4 linked regions of the Homo sapiens genome follow. The protein of the gene in region 1 purifies or fractionates together with the protein of each later gene. This does not show direct contact. Each region holds a gene or a part of one and is shown on either strand. Other genes may lie near its edges.

Region 1 (4,233 bases):
TAAAAATATGCACTACAGGCCAGGCCCGGTGGCTCAAGCCTGTAATCCCAGCACTTTGGGAGGCTGAGGTGGGTGGATCACGAGGTCAGGAGTTGGAGACCAGCCTGGCCAAGATAGTAAAACACCGTCTCTACTAAAAATACAAAAATTAGCTGGGCGTGGTGGCAGGCGCCTGTAATCCCAGCTACTTGGGAGGCTGAGGCAGGAGAATCACTTGAACCCGGGAGGCAGAGGTTGCAATAAGCCAAGATCGAGCCATTGAACTCCGGCTTGGGTGACAGGAAAAAAAAAAAAAAAAAACCACTAGGAATTAAGGCACATGAATAACTGTCTTTGTATTTTATTCCAACTTTTTATCATGAATATTGAACATCTATACATCCACATCTAGATTCAACAATTGTTAATATTTACCATATTTGCTTTACCTATCTACATTTTTTCTGAAGCACTTCAAAGTCGTCTGCATCATAATACTTTATCCCTAAATATTTCAAATAAGGATCTTCTCTTGTACAACCACAGTACTATTTATTAAATCTATGAAAATTAACAATAATTCCATAGTATCATCTAAATATTCAGTCCATATTCAGATTTCCTCAACTGTTTCCTCAACTTTTATTCTGGATTTTTTCCAAACCAGGAGTTAATCAAGGCTCACACATTCAAAGTGGTTGTTACCTCTAGTCTCTTTTACTCTAGAATAAGTACTTCCCCTTTCTTCATGATGTTGTCTTTTTAAGATACAAGAACAGTCTGACTGTATCCTCAATGTGAGGTTTATCTCATTTCTCCATCCCCTGTATTTTCTGTAAACCAGCAGTTCAGTCTTTAAACTTAATTTAGGATCATGTTCAACATTTTTGGTAGGAATACCTTGTAGGTGGTACCAGGTGCTTTATATTACAGTATCTGCAAAGTATAAAATGCCCGGCTATCCCATTACTGAGACATTTGATTAAAACTGTGACCACCACACCTCACTATTGGAAAATTATGTTCATTCCTTGCCATTTAGTAAGTAATTTGAGGGGATAATACTTTGATATCATGTGAGTATCTGTTCCCCATTAACCTTTCAATTATTTTATTTACGGTAAAAGATTCTATCATTCTTTCTACATTTATTTATTTATTTATTTATTTTTGAGACAAGGTCTTGCTCTGTCACCCAGCCTGGAGTGCAGTGGCGCCATCTCAGCTCACTGAAACCTCCCCTTTCCTAGTTCAAGCGATTCTCGTGCCTCAACCTCCCGAGTAGCTGGGATTACAGGCATGTGCCACCACGCCCAGCTAATTTTTGTATTTTTAGCAGAGATGGGGTTTCATCATGTTGGCCAGGCTGGTCTCAAACTGCTGACCTCAAACTCCTGGTCTCAAGCAATCCGCCCACCTTGGCTTCCCAAATTGCTGGGATTACAGGCATGAGCCACCACACCTGGCCTCTTTCTACCTTCATTATTGGCACGCATTTTCTGTAAAAAGCTTTCCCTCACCAACTGAAGAGGATCTAAAAGGCAAGGTAAATGCACATTCATTCCCATAATAACCTATTTTTCAAAGTAAGGAATCAGTGTATTAATTACCTCCAATGTTTGCAAATGAATTCCCCCCCCCCCACGTCTTTCTCTATTTTAAGTGTCAAGGTGATCATGTGGAATTTTACTTATTCAAGGTGTTACCATCAGTTTGGATACTTAAGCTTTCCCAAATCTGTCGAGTGAGAGACCCTTAAACCTGGCCTCTTTTGACACATATCCATAGTCTTTAAGCTCTTCCTTGCTTTCTAGCACAAGTTACTCCAGGCTCACCTGGTACTTCCCCTGCTGCTTCTCTTTCTGACCTAGCCACCAAGTTCCTGTGTGACCCTGGGCAGGCCTCCCATTTGATTTACATTTCCCCACTGTTAGAATAAGAAAAATCAGGTTAAGTCCATCCTGCCCCACATGGCCATGGGAAAGATGAAAATAAATAATATACATAACCATGACACTGAAATACTGGTCCTAGGCTGAAAAGACCACCACTACTTAGGAAAACCCCAGACTAGGAGCCACAATCAACAACTCCGGAAACCCTCCACCCACTCGTCTCCCTAAGAGATGCTTCCACTCAAGTGACTCATTCCTTCTCACACTAGAGGGGACTGCTTTTCCTCCCTCCCACCCATCAGTTTATTCTTACCTTCTGCTTTAAACATCTTAGTCACATCCTCCCACAGGGCCACCCGCTCCGTGGCCGCCTTTGGATGACGCAACTTCACCCAGGTGCTGGCCTCGGTGGGCAGGGTGATCAGGAGCTGCTGCAGCATGACGGCGTCCGCACTCCTTTCTGAGGACCCTCTGTCTTAGCCCATAGGGCTTGTCCACCTCTGATGAGGAAATTGCTGGAAGCTCTGACAGGAGGCTTCCCAATTGTACCGATCTCCTTAATCGCCGACTCCTACTCCTCAATGTCCTCTCTCAGGAACCCAGGGAACATACAGTATCAAAATCCGAGATCTGGACTTGTGTCTATCATCGGCTCTCAGGGCGTATCTCCCAACTTGAGCTCCATCTGTCTCCTTGGCCAGCAGCTGGAGGCGCCAAGTATTTACTCTCAGCAGCCCCTGCAGATGCTGAGCAGAAGACATTAGAATCAGCAAAGGACTAAGGAGGCTCAGTCATAGGGCAGAACGCTAGAACATATATGGATCACTGTAAAATGTTTCCAAAAGATACACGGAGACGGTGGGCAGACACAGCCCACAAAATTCAAAGCACCGCGCACATGTCAGGAAGCACAAAGAGACGAATACAACCCAATTCTTTGTTTGGGGCAGTAATTATGTGTAAAGTAGCCGGGGATTTGGAATCCCAGCTCTTTCACTAGTCGGCTGTAGCAAACCGCGAAACCGCTAGACCCCGCCTCCTCCTCCCCAAATGAGAGGCTAAGTCCTCCCCACAAAGCAAAACGCCCCCGGCCCTAGCCTCCCAGCCTTTGTCTGAGCACGACTCCGGGGCTGCGGAGAGCACCGCGCGCGACAGGGTGGCCGCGGGCGGAACTCGCGCTTCCCGGCTCGCCCAGCTCCCCAAGCCCGGGACAGCCACCCGCTCACCCTCTCCCCGCTGGGCCGGCACGCCCCCGCCTTCCCACCGCTGCAGCCGGGTTCCGGCACTGCGCGGCCAAGCTCCCACGTAGCGCTGCGGCGGGCAGTCGGGGCCCAGTGCGCCTGCGCAGCGGCTGGCTAGAGCATGGTTCCCAGCGTCCTCCCGGGGAGCCGCTCCGCCAGCGCAGACGCCCCCACCGGTGCGCGCCGGGTTGGCTGCGTTCAGGGGCTCCCAGTATCCGATCCCTGCGAGCATCATCAGCCTGGCTCCTGCGGGAGGAGATGGAGCCTGCGTTCTTGGGCCCCAGACTCTGATGAAGAACAACCATCTTTCCTCCGCTGGGAAAATGCACGTGAACGTTAGGGTGAGCCTTTGAAACCCGTGACAAAAGGGAGCCATCGGCATCACGTTTTTTGGTGAAACGACACTGGTGTAAAATAATCCATAGCACTTTCCCTAAATATTATGTACATGCCAGTTATTTATTCTCAGCAGACAGTTGAATGGATTCCGGTATATTGTTAAAAGAATACCACAACAGTTTTCTCTTCTAGTATTCAATAAAAGTTCTCATGTTTATTGCTTACCTTGTATTTCTGAAATGCCAGAAAATACACAAAAACAAAAAAATTATTGCCTGTAATTTCAGCAAGCAGCGGTAACCTTGCTAACAGTTGGTGTACAACCTTTCCTGCACACACACAACGTATTTCATGCATTGTTATATATTTTCCACAAAAGCGATTATACTGTAATGCTGTTTTATTGCTGAGTTTTCTCCCTCCAACAAAATTTGAGTACATCACTCCAAATACATTTCTACATCAACAGTTTACAAAAACAACAAATGAGGAAATAGAATACAATTATAGTACTTGCTAGCTGTTATGAACCGAATGTTTGGATTCCCCAAAATTTATCTTGAAGCCCTAACCTCCATTGTATTTGGAGAGTATTTAGAGATAAGGCCTTTATGGAAGTAATTAAGGTTAGAATATAGTCCTAGTCAGAAACGAACCCAACTCGACCTTACTTGGGGCTTCTAGTCTCCACACTGAGAAAATAAATTTCCGGTTTTTTGTTTGTTTGTTTGTTTGTTTTTTTGAGATGGAGTCTCGCACTGTCCGCAGGGCTGGACTGC
Region 2 (4,153 bases), on another chromosome or scaffold:
ATTTGACAGGAAGAGGCTTTCCTATTGTAAATGCTAATTTACATAAACCTTAACATACTGTGTGAATTGAAAGAAAAGTTGCAAAAATGAGAAACTTTTAAAGAACATTTCTGGGCCCCATACCCCTAGGATCCCGAGAAACCCCAGTGCCCCGGCAGCGATGAGCACAGCCCACGCGTGTGCTGATGGACAGGGACCGCGTGCTGGCAGCTTCCAGACGGCATCCTGTGGGGCTTCAGCCGCCGCTTCTCAGGGAGCTGCATGTGACACTGCAGCAGCACCGCAGCTTCCTGGTCTGGAAGCAGTACCTCACCCTGCTGCCGGACCTGGTGGATAAAGTGGCCCATGGGTGTGAAGCCCTAGGCTTTTCCCTAGTCTTGAAGCCCAACCCCAGAGGGCCTTGCAAGAGATGAAGCACATGCAAAACACCGAGGTCTTCACACTGCACCAGCCCCTGCCAAAGTATGACCACTGTGTGGGTGAGAAGCACCGCTGGGTAGAGCAGCACCTGGAGTCCCAGCTTGTGGAGTGAATTATCCTGACAATGGACAAGACCGTGGTCTTTGGGGACTTGCTCACTGATGACAAGGATACCATTCGAGGCCAAGAGGAGAGGCCACAATCAGTACCTGGTCCTGCCATGCACAGGGAGGTGGCTGCTCTCCTGGAATGGTAACAGGACGGAGATCATAGCCAGCCAGCAGGGAGCTAGGCAGCAGGAACGAACAGGCCCTGCAGGGGGCAGCAGCTGCAGCTGGAGCAATGGTGGGCGGGCAGGCACCAAAACCTCTGCACTGTCACAGGCCCAGCCACCTGGCACCTCCTAGCTGCCATGGAAATACAGTGAGAAAACCAGTTGGAATTCTTTTTATTAAAAAAAAAAGTGACTTCCTGGTCCATACATAAATAAGAACATTGAAACTACTTGAAAATTTTTTGTTGTTGTTGTTTGTTTTTTGTTTTTGTTTTTGTTTTAGATGGAGTTTCACTCTTGTCCCCCAGGCTGGAGTACAATGGCGTGATCTCGGCTCACTGCAACCTCTGCCTCCAGGGTTCCAGCGATTCTCCTGCCTCAGACTCCCGAGTAGGTGGGACTACAGGTGTGCACCACCTCACCTGGCTAATTTTTGTATTTTTAGTAGAGACGGGGTTTCACCATGTTGGCCAGGCTGGTCTCGAACTCTTGATCCGCCTGCCTCGGCCTCCCAAAGTGCTAGGATTACAGGTGTTAGCCACCGCGTCCGGCCTGTTTTTTTTGTTTTGTTTTGTTTGTTTTTAATATTATGTGTCTTTTCTCTTTCCTTACAATGCCTTTTTTTTTTTTTTTTTTTGAGACGGAGTCTCACTCTATTGCCCAGGCTGGAGTGCGTGGCACGATCTTGGCTCACTGCAAACTCCGCCTCCTGGGTTCATGCCATTCTTCTGCCTCAGCGTCCCGAGTAGCTGGGACGACAGGCGCCCGCTACCACGCCCGGCTAATTTTTTGTATTTTTAGTAGAGACGAGTTTTCACCGTGTTAGCCAGGATGGCCTTGATCTCCTGACGTCGTGATCCGCCCGCCTCGGCTTCTCAAAGTGCTGGGATTACAGGCGTGAGCCAGCGCGCCCAGCCCTTACAATGTCTTTTAACTGAGCACTAGGTTTGAGGGACCTCTCAGTTTTGGAGCGGCAGGGGCAATTCCCCAACCAACTTTCCATTCCATTCCTGTCTCCTTACACTAACCTCCGGAATGTTGGAAGCTACATCCTTTCTCCGTATGAAAAGCGCAGGGACGAAAAAAAATAAAAATAAAAAAATAAGTGTAACTCCCCTCAAAGGGCCGGGCGCAGTGGCTCACCCTGCAATCCTAGCTCTTGGGGAGGCAGAGGCGGGAGGATAGCTTGGGTCCAGGAGTTCAAGACCTACCTGGGCAACATAGCCCGGGGTGGTGGTGGTGGGGCGGGAGGAGGGACACACACACAAGCGAAAAGAGCGGGGCGGGGCGAAGGGGACACACACACACACACAGTGGAAAGCGCAGGAACAGGGATGGGCAGAGGGGAACAATTAGCGGAGGTGAGTCACCTGGCGGCAGGAAGAGCGTGCCTCGCACCCGGCCCGCGCGCACCGGCTCGCGCCGCACCCCGGGCGGGAGGAAGTAGCGCTCGTGCCGCACCCGGCACAGCAGCCGCCCGGGGTCGGGGTCGTGGCCATCCAGCACCTCCAGCTCCACGGCCAAGGGCGTTCGCACGTCGCGCTTCACCAGCCGCACCAAGGGTTTCTCGGGCTCCAAGGCCCAGAGCAGCCCCATGGGCTCAAGCCCCGCGAAGCTGCCGCCCAGCGCGGGCGCGCGCTCCAGGTCCAGCTCGCCAAGGGTGTCGGCGCGGTAGCGCGCGTGGGCCTGGAAAAGCGCGCCCTTCTCGTCGCGCAGGGACGCGCGCAGCGTGACCGGCTGCTCCGGGGCTAGGCCGCGCACGGCGATTCGCACCGGTTCGTCCCAGCAGCAGCGGCCCGCGGGCTCCAGGATCAGCGTCGCCGCCATCCGAGCAGGAACCCAAATAATCCGGCCAAACTGCCTCAGCTGTGGAGACCCCTGCAACTCTGCCCAACTCTTCCTCTCGGGCTGCCGTCGCAGGCTAAACGCCCACTAGGGCAGAGCTGTCTGCTAATGTGAGCGGGGAAGGCCAGAGTCCAGCCGATCAGCCAGACCAAATATAGACACACTGGAACTTGCTTAAAGTCTCCTGTGTTGAAACCTCCACTTTATGTTGGAAAGCAACTTCCTAGGTTTGCTTTTCAGAAGCTTGCTGGCTCGCGGAATGGGCTGGGCCAGGACTGGTTCGTCCCGGCTACTCGGGAGGCTGAGGCAGGAGAATGGCGTGATCCCGGGGGGTGGAGCTTGCAGTTGGCCAAGATCATGCCACTGCACTACAGCCTGGGCGACAGAGCGAAAGTCCGTCTCAGAAAAAAAAAAAAACAACAACAACCAGGCAGCTAGCAGTCTCCAGGCTCCAAACTCCTGATGGCGAAGAGGAATGCAGGACTGGAGTTGGTTTTGATCACTTTGTTGAATAATTCACACTCATTACTAATCTTAGGGCTTTTCTTTCAAAATCTGCACCATGGTGTTTTGCTTTCGTGTTCTCTGTATATGCCTATCCTCCACATCACTCCCACATCGAAGGGTGCTGGCTTCTTACTAGCTGTGTGACCTCTGAGCTTTATTCCTTACAGGTGTAAAAATAGCCAAATGAGGTAATAGTTATTAATTTCTCGAACTCCTGACTTTGTGATCCGCCCGCCTCGGCCTCCCAAAGTGCTGGGATTTACAGGCGATGAGCCACCGCGCCCGGCCAATAGTTATTATTTTCTTATACTGGTTTCTCATTTTTGTCCCAGTCAGGCAAGTGTTACCTCTCATCTTTTTTTTTTTTTTTTTTTTTTTTTAAAGAGACAGGGTCTCACTACGTTGCCAGTCTGGAGTACAGCGGCGGTTTACCATCACTGCGCACTTACAAGCCTCAAACTCCTGGGCTAAAGCCATCTTCCTGCCTCAGCCTCTCAAACACCTCAAGGGACTACCGGCGCTCCCCATGCATTGGGCTTTTTTCTACTTTTTCATAGGCTATTGGTTCCAACCAGAGGTGGTTTTTTTTTTTCATCAAACTTAAGCTTTAGGCCCCTCCCAAGCCCTTGTACCTGATTTCATAATTTCCTATCTTGGTAATTAGAGAAACCTATAAATGCGTAAGCTTCAAACTCACAAAACCTGTGTTTGCCTCTGCTCCTAATAAGGCTGTCCTCAAGGTAAGCCTTTTTATCTCTTTCCAAATGCTCTCATGTCCCATGTCCCATGTCATTATCATACAACTCCCTGTTAGTTGTAATTACCTTTGTATAGGTTCTGTGGCACACATCAAGTATATTCTGTGCATAGAAGTCTCAGGAACTAAAGAAGGTAAATAATAGTAGCTAATTGTTAATACTTACAAGAACCGTAGTAGTAAATTAAGGCCCAGAGAATTTAACTGATTTTCTGAAGATCATACAGCTGGGAAGTGGAAGTTGGGTGAGGTGGCTCACGCCTATAATCCCAGTTTACTTGGAGGCTGAGGTGGCAGGGTTTCTTAAGGCCAGGAGTTTCAGACCAACCTGGATAAGACCCTGTCTCTAA
Region 3 (3,500 bases), on another chromosome or scaffold:
CTCCACCCCCAGCTTGAGGTGGCTCAGAACAGAGAGAGAGACAGAGAGAGAGAGAGAGAGTGAGAGAGAGAGAGAGACTCTGTATTTTTGGGAGGAAGTAAGGGAAGAAAGCAAGAGTATGTGCTGGAATCCAGAGAAGTATCTTGGATCTTGTCCAAGACCATCAAGGCAATACATCTACAAGTCTGCAAGAACCACAGCGTTACTAGGCTTGGGGTGCCCCCTAAAGCAGAAACAGCTTAGATTACAACACCTAAGTCCTTTCAAATATCTGGAAAGCCTTTCCAAGAAGGACGGCTACAAATAAGCCCAGACAATGAAGACTACAATAAACACCTAACTCTTCAATGCCCAGACACTGAAGAATGTCTGCTAGCATCAACGCCATTCAGGAAAACCATGACCTCATCAAATGAATTAAATAAGGTGCCAGGGACTAACGCTGGAGAAACAGATATAAGCGACCTTTCAGACAGAGAATTCAAAATAGCTGTGTTGAGGAAACTCAAAGAAATTCCAAATAACACAGAGGAGGAATTCAGAATTCCAGCATATAAATTTAACAAAGAGATTGAAATCATTAGAAAGAATCAAGCAGAAATTCTGGAGCTGAAAAATGCAATCGGCATAATGAAGAATGCATCAAAGTCCTTTAATAGCAGAATGGACCAAACACAAGAAATAATTACTGAGCTTGAAGACAGGCCATTTGAAAATACATGGTCAGAGGAGACAAAAGAAAAAAGAATAAACAACAATGAAGCATGCTTATAGGATCTAGAAAATAGCCTCAAAGGGGCAAATCTAATAGTTATTGCCCATAAAGTGGAGGTAGAGAAAGAGATAGGAGTAGAAAGTTTATTCAAAGGGATAATAACAGAAAACTTTCCAAACCTAGAGAAAGATACCTATATTCAAGTATGAGAAGGCTAGAGAACACCAAGCACATTTAACCCAAAGAAAACTACCTCAAGGCATTTAATAATCAAACTCCCAAAGGTCAAGGATAAAGAAAAGATTCTAAAAGCAGCAAGAGAAGAGATAAATAACAAACAATGGAGTTCCAATACATCTGGCAGCAGCCTTTTCAGTGGAACCCTTACAGGCCAGGAGAGAGTGGCATGACATATTTAAAGTGCTGAAGAAAAAAAAACCTTTTACCCCAGAATAGTATATCTGGTGAAAATATCCTTCAAACAGGAAGGAGAAATAAAGACTTTCCAAGACAAAAGTTGAGGAATTTTATCAATTCCAGACCGATCCTACAAGAAATGCTACAGGGAGTACTTCAATCAGAAAGAAAAGGAAGCTCATGAGCAAGAAGAAATCATCTGAAGGTACAAAACTCACTGGTAATAGTAAGTACACAGAAATACACAGAATATTATAACATTGTAACTGTGTGTGCAAACTACTGTTATCCTACATATAAAGACTAAACAATGAACAAATCAAAAATAATAACTAAACAACTTTTTAAGATATAGGCAGTACAACAAGATATAAATGAAAATCACAAAGAGTTAAAAAGTAGGGAGCAAAGTTAAGACTAGTTTCTATTAGTTTTCTTCTTGCTGTGTGTTTGTTTATGCAAATAGTGTTAAGTTGTTATCAGGTTAAAATAAGGTTTATAAGATAGTATTTGCAAGCCTTATGGTAACTGTCATGGGTGGCAACTCTCTGAGACTGGTGTGGCATGGGAGGTAAAAAGAATTTACCAAGATACTTGTAGGTAAAGAAAGGCAGATTTATTAGAGAAAGTAGGAAAATATGTTGCAAGATAGTCAGCAAGAGAAGAGCTGGCTGCAAGGAGACAAAGGCTTGCTGAGGATTTTATAGGATGGTGCTTGTGCTGCAGAGAGCTAGATGCAGTATTGATAATGCCAAGGTTGCAGTGAGATAACTTGCATTTTTCTATCAGCTGAGGGTCTGGTGATCGCTGGGTGCAGGAAGATTATGTTATTTTTGCAGGAGGGCTATGTGTCCTAGACCATGAAGAAAGGGAGACTTATAGTTCATCTGCTTTTTCTTTTTTGCTTTCCCCTGGTCCTGCCAGCCTAGCTCTTTTTCCCTAATTAGGGCTCCACATTTCCCCCCTGACATAGCAACAATGACAAATCTTTGGCATGTGAGTGAAGGTCTCATCTTCCAACTGCTTCCTACTGACCAAGGGTATAGAGTTGGCCCTACCTAAGATTGTTGGCCTATCAGGAGGTTACATGGACCTAGATCCCTGGGTTGGCCCCTAAATTGGGGAGGGTCACTGTTGGACTATGGAAGAACAGCATTTGCAGCCTAAAAAAGAGACTGTTCTCTCCCATTTGAATGGTCTTGACACCCTCATAAAATTTGGAACTTACTCAATTGACCAAGGATGTATGGGTTTATTTCTGAATTCTCTGTTCCATAGATCAACATAAAAAGATGTTGTATGAGGCAATTGGAGGTAAATTAATTATGGGCTAGAAATGAGATAATATTAAAGTATTATTATTGTGTTAGGTGTGATAACGATATTGTGGCCGTGTAACAAATTTTACTTATTTTTTATATTTAATAAAATATTCAATGATGGAATGACAAGCCAAGAATTTCCACTAAAAAAATGACAGCCAAAAAGTTTCTTTAAAAGGTCAGAATAAGGGGATAGATGAATTAATACAGCAAAACACTGAAAATTATTTAGCCTAAGGATTGATATACAGGTGCACATTACACTATAGTCTTTTCATTTTGTATGTTTGAAAACTTTGAAAATAAATACTTGAAGTAAACAATTTTAGTGGGAGGCCTTAGTCTTGTCAACCAAAAGTTAACTTTGAATTTGGATCTTGGACTATAGCCAGAATCTTAGAGCAATGGGGAAAGCACAGATCTTTTCTTGCTCTGTAACCACATCCTATCCCCAGGTCTGCAGAGCTGCACCTACCATGGATGGTATAGATGAAGCCTGAATTCTTTTCCCCTAAAACCAGTCATCAATTCTGTTGGAACTCACCAAAAATTCAAAGAGACTAAGAGTGACTTCCTCTTTTTCTCATTAAAACTATTTCAATGTTCTGCTGAATTATTTACACATCACTAATCAACACACACACATTAGAATACTGAAATGTAAAAGAATGACCATACCAATTGATATAGTTTAAAAGTTTGTCCCCTCCAAATCCCATGTTGAAATTGGAGATGGGGCCATCTGCCATCATTGTTAAAGTATTTAATTACATCCCTGGCTGTAATTCTCCTGGATAGACTCAAGGAGATTTTGTTACAGGAGATCTTCAAGAAATCCCCTGTGCAGGGTCTGGGACACTGCACGCAAACACACCTGCACATACACAAACACATACATGTGCAAACACATACTCTATCATCAAGTAATGCTTCCTTCTCATCAGACAGATGAGACTCAGACTCTGAATCCTGTTTCCCAGCAAGATGTAACCAACTGCATGCTTTTCCCAGACACATCCTGGCATCTGAAACAAGGAAAGAGCAAT
Region 4 (4,084 bases), on another chromosome or scaffold:
GAATAATATCTATATCTAATAATTCATTCCTAAACAGGCAAATTTTTTAAATTTTAAGTTCAGGGGTACAGGTGCAGGTTTGTTACATAGATAAACTTGTATCATGGGGGTTTGTTGTACAGATTATTTCATCACCCAGGTATTAAGCCTAGTATCTATTAGTTATTTTTCCTGATTCTCTCCCTCCTCCCTCCAATATGCCCCACTGTGTGTTGCTCCCCTCTATGTGTCCATGTGTTCTCATTATTTAGCTCATACTTATAAGGAGAATATGTGGTATCTGGTTTTCTGTTCCTGCATTAGTTTGCTAAGGATAATGTCCTGCAGCTCCATCTATGTCCCTGCAAAGGACATTACCTCATTCTACTTTTTATGGCTGTATAATATTTCATGGTGTATATGTGTCACATTTTCTTTATCCAGTCTATGATGGATGGACATTTAAGTTGCTTCCATGTCTTTGCTACTGTGAATAGTGCTGCAATGAACATACACATGCATGCGTAGTTATGATAGACTGATTTATATCCTTTTGGGTGTATTCCCAGTAATGGGATTGCTGGGTCGAATGGTATTTCTGTCTTTAGGTCTTTGAGGATTCGCCACACTGTCCTCCATAATGGCTGAACTAATTTACACTCTCACTAACAGTGTATACGCATTCCTTTTTCTCTAAAACCTCGCCAGCATCTAAATCAGCAATTTTTAATGCTCATATTCTTGTAGCTCATTCAAATTTGAAAGGGATATCCTTTTTGATTCAGAAGAAATAGAAACATCAGAAAAAAACAAAAGAGACTAGAATTTTTTTAACCATAAGATTAATTAAATAGATAATGATGGATTATTGCATCTTATTGATGACTCGAAACACAGCTTCATGGATAATGTAGCTTAAAGAAAGTACAATCACAAAGTTTATCAACTGAATTAGGATATTTTTGAGAGTAAAAGGGAGCAACATTAATAATTATGCTGAGGGTAAGTAAAAATAGGCAGAAAATGGGACAATGGAATTGTCTCCAGCAAATCATAATATGTGGTCATTCTACCTGAAGTTGTGCAGATGATACCTAAACCAATAAATGCTAAAATGATTGATGAAAGGTGGTGAACACTTGAATGAGCAATTTCAGAAATTCAAAAATATAGTTAGAAAGCACAAAAATCTAGTGTTCAGTGGCAAAATAGGGTAGCTATAGTTAACAATAATTTATTGTATAGTTCAAAATAACTAGGAGTAGATTTATAATTTTCTCTACACAAAGCAATGACAAATGTCTGAGGCGACAGATATATCTCAATTACCCAGATTTCATTATTACACATTGTATGCTTGTATCAAAATGTCACATTTATCTCATAAATATGTACAACTATGATGTATCCACAAAAATAAAACAAATAAATTCGCTAATGGGTAAAAACCTCAAAGGGCAGCTGCCTGTTGGTCTCTAGAGTACAATCCTAGGTTTTTTGGTTGGGTCTTACATCCTTTTGTTGTTGCTATTTTTGTTTGGAGGGGAGTGCGTTTTCTGTTTGTTTTATTGGGGTGGGGGGTGTTGAGAGAAAAGTTTTAAGTGAAATTTTATTGTTCCTTTGGAAACTAGTCCCCAACAATGGTCTGGCTTCTTTTGTGAGGGCCTCAGGATTTTGATCCCAGAATATAATGCAGTGGCTCATGATAAATTTTATTGCTATAAACCCTGAAGAAAGTTCTGCTCATTAGTTAATAGCATCTTATTTCGAGTCACAATATTCGGGATTCCACCATCTTGGGAAAGTGATTTAACACAGGAGCCAAAGCAATCATTTTCAAAAGAAAACAATTTAAACATCACTCATCAGTTCACAATCTTCACTTCTTTTAGAACCAACACACAAATCCCACAGGATATTTCCTGGCCCCTTCCTGTTATTCCAGCCTCAACTCCTATGTGGCTCCCCTCACTTGCTGTTCCAGTCACTCAGGTTCCACTTAGAAGAGTGGTTGACAAATTCAGCTAATGTTGCCCCCACCGCCCCCAAGGACATTTGGATTTGGCAATGTCTGGAGAGATTTTTAGCTGTCACAACTTGGTGGTGATGGTGGTGGTGGTTGGTTGGGGGGAGTACTGGCATCTAATGGCTAGAGATTAGGGATGCTACTGCTAAGCATCATGCACAGGGCAGCCCCCAATAAAGAAACATCCTGACTCAAAATGTTAATAATGCTGAAGTTCAGAGCTCGATTTTCATCTTTCCTCAGACCATGCTTCCCAGATCTTGCACACATTGTTCTCTTTGCCTAAAATATTCAGGCTATTTTCCCTTATCCTCCTTTCCCGTTGCCCTTTCTTCTCTTTTCTGGTCTTCTCTAACTCCCACTCACCCTTTGATAACCCTCTTATAGTGGCTTTACAGACTCTTCTTCCCAGATGAATGTTACTCTTTCAAAGAATTATGGAACACTAAAGAATATTAGTAGCAATTTCACATGCATTTGTATGTGTTCGATTACCCCTCTCCACCACCAACTCCAGGTGGGTAGATGTCACCTAGCTTATATTTACCACAGTATCCCCAGCAGCTAGCACAGAATGAATGAATACTTAATAGCTTCACTTACAAAAGGGAAATAGGGTAACCATCTCATTAGGTTGTAAAGATTAAATAATACATACAAACACTTTAGCACAGTGCTTGAATCACAGTAAATGCTGACACCGAGGCATTGTAGGCATTGTAGTTTGTGGACAGGAGAGGGGACTCCGTCTGTCTCATTTTAGCGCCTCCCAGTCTTCCTCCATCACCTAGGTCTGAGAAACTCCTCCTCCTACCTACGAGTAAGCAGCAATTGCTACGCCTGCGCTTTCCTGGTTCCACCCCTAACCAGGCTGCCGGAAGCACTTTCCTCTTTGGCACGGGCCAGCCGCAGGTTGGGTAGATACTGCGCAAGCTCCATACTCGTGTCTCCTCCTCCCGCCCACCGGTGCCCAACCTGCTAACACGCCTGCGCGAGCGGGCGTGCCCCGGAAGCCGTTCTTTGGCCCTGTGACACGTAGCAACGGGGCTGGTTCAGGGTCTGAAACAGAGTTTGGGGGTTGTTTGGGATTAGTGAAGCTACTGCCTTTGCCGCCAGCGCAGCCTCAGAGTTTGGTGAGTGACCCAGGCCCGTGGCACAGTGTTCAGCTTCTCTCCACACCCGTGCAAATGGGCTTGTTGCCGTCTTTCGGCGCCGCGCCCTGGTCCTTTCGCTCAGACCCTCGCTCTCATTCAAGCCCTTGCCCTGACGCGGTCCCCTGCACCTCAGGCGCGACCTTCCAGATTCTGCACTTTTTCCTGGCAGGCCGCAGGCCTTATTTTGCAAGGAAGCAGTCGCCTTGTCAGCTGTAAAGCCCAGTCCTAAGGTGAAAAATCATCTTTGTTGTTATTGATATTTTAGACCGCTTATGGAACCACAACTCCCACGACCTCGCCCCTAATGGAAGGCATATCAGCTCTTTAAGGTGGAGTTGTCTTACTGGGCCGCAACTTAAAAGAATATACATTTTCTTACTCTCTCTCCGCTACCGTCGTTCAAATGCTGCGTACTTTCCGCCCCCATCCCCTCTCCGAATTACTGAAAAAATATTTGTTGTGTTTCTATTTGCTTAAGCAGACTGCCAGGAACGAATTCAGTAGAACCTTGGGCATAAGGAATATTTGCCATTTCTCTTTTATTACAGATTATTTGCAATGTCAGGCTTTGAAAACTTAAACACGGATTTCTACCAGACAAGTTACAGCATCGATGATCAGTCACAGCAGTCCTATGATTATGGAGGAAGTGGAGGACCCTATAGCAAGTAACTTTTCATCTTTGGCAATTAATTTAGTCTACATTGCAGTGAAAACACATATTTAGAATATTTGGTTCTGCCTAAAACAATATGTGAACATGTCCTTTATCAGGAGTATGATCTTTCATGCATAATCTTCTTCCTCTAGAGAGATATGTGACACTGGCTTGGCTTCGAAGGTATTGTTCTATTTAAGAGTTGAGTGTCTTCTGCAAACTCTTCAGGTGTACCATGAATGGAAAAGTAGCTTGTTTGAAGAACTG

What was found.
Region 2: the proteins of ZFP69B (region 1) and ACOT1 purify together in Homo sapiens (affinity purification with mass spectrometry; one large-scale study listed by BioGRID and IntAct). This does not show direct contact.
Region 3: the proteins of ZFP69B (region 1) and UGT1A10 purify together in Homo sapiens (affinity purification with mass spectrometry; one large-scale study listed by BioGRID and IntAct). This does not show direct contact.
Region 4: the proteins of ZFP69B (region 1) and KCTD16 purify together in Homo sapiens (affinity purification with mass spectrometry; one large-scale study listed by BioGRID and IntAct). This does not show direct contact.

What each region holds. Positions count from the first base shown.
Region 1 is NC_000001.11:40,449,043-40,453,275, reverse strand, and holds the start of ZFP69B (zinc finger protein 69 homolog B), read right to left. Parts: upstream 2,801-4,233; 5' UTR 2,315-2,800; coding exon 2,188-2,314; intron 1-2,187. UniProt on the Homo sapiens protein: May be involved in transcriptional regulation. Essential for Golgi structural integrity.
Region 2 is NC_000014.9:73,535,790-73,539,942, reverse strand, and holds the start of ACOT1 (acyl-coenzyme A thioesterase 1), read right to left. Parts: upstream 2,801-4,153; 5' UTR 2,522-2,800; coding exon 2,065-2,521; intron 1-2,064. UniProt on the Homo sapiens protein: Catalyzes the hydrolysis of acyl-CoAs into free fatty acids and coenzyme A (CoASH), regulating their respective intracellular levels. More active towards saturated and unsaturated long chain fatty acyl-CoAs (C12-C20).
Region 3 is NC_000002.12:233,639,448-233,642,947, reverse strand, and holds part of UGT1A10 (UDP-glucuronosyltransferase 1A10 precursor), read right to left. Parts: intron 1-3,500.
Region 4 is NC_000005.10:144,169,589-144,173,672, reverse strand, and holds the start of KCTD16 (BTB/POZ domain-containing protein KCTD16), read right to left. Parts: upstream 2,801-4,084; 5' UTR 2,664-2,800; intron 1-2,663. Other genes in the region: protein YIPF5, read left to right, coding at 3,718-3,827. UniProt on the Homo sapiens protein: Auxiliary subunit of GABA-B receptors that determine the pharmacology and kinetics of the receptor response. Increases agonist potency and markedly alter the G-protein signaling of the receptors by accelerating onset and promoting desensitization.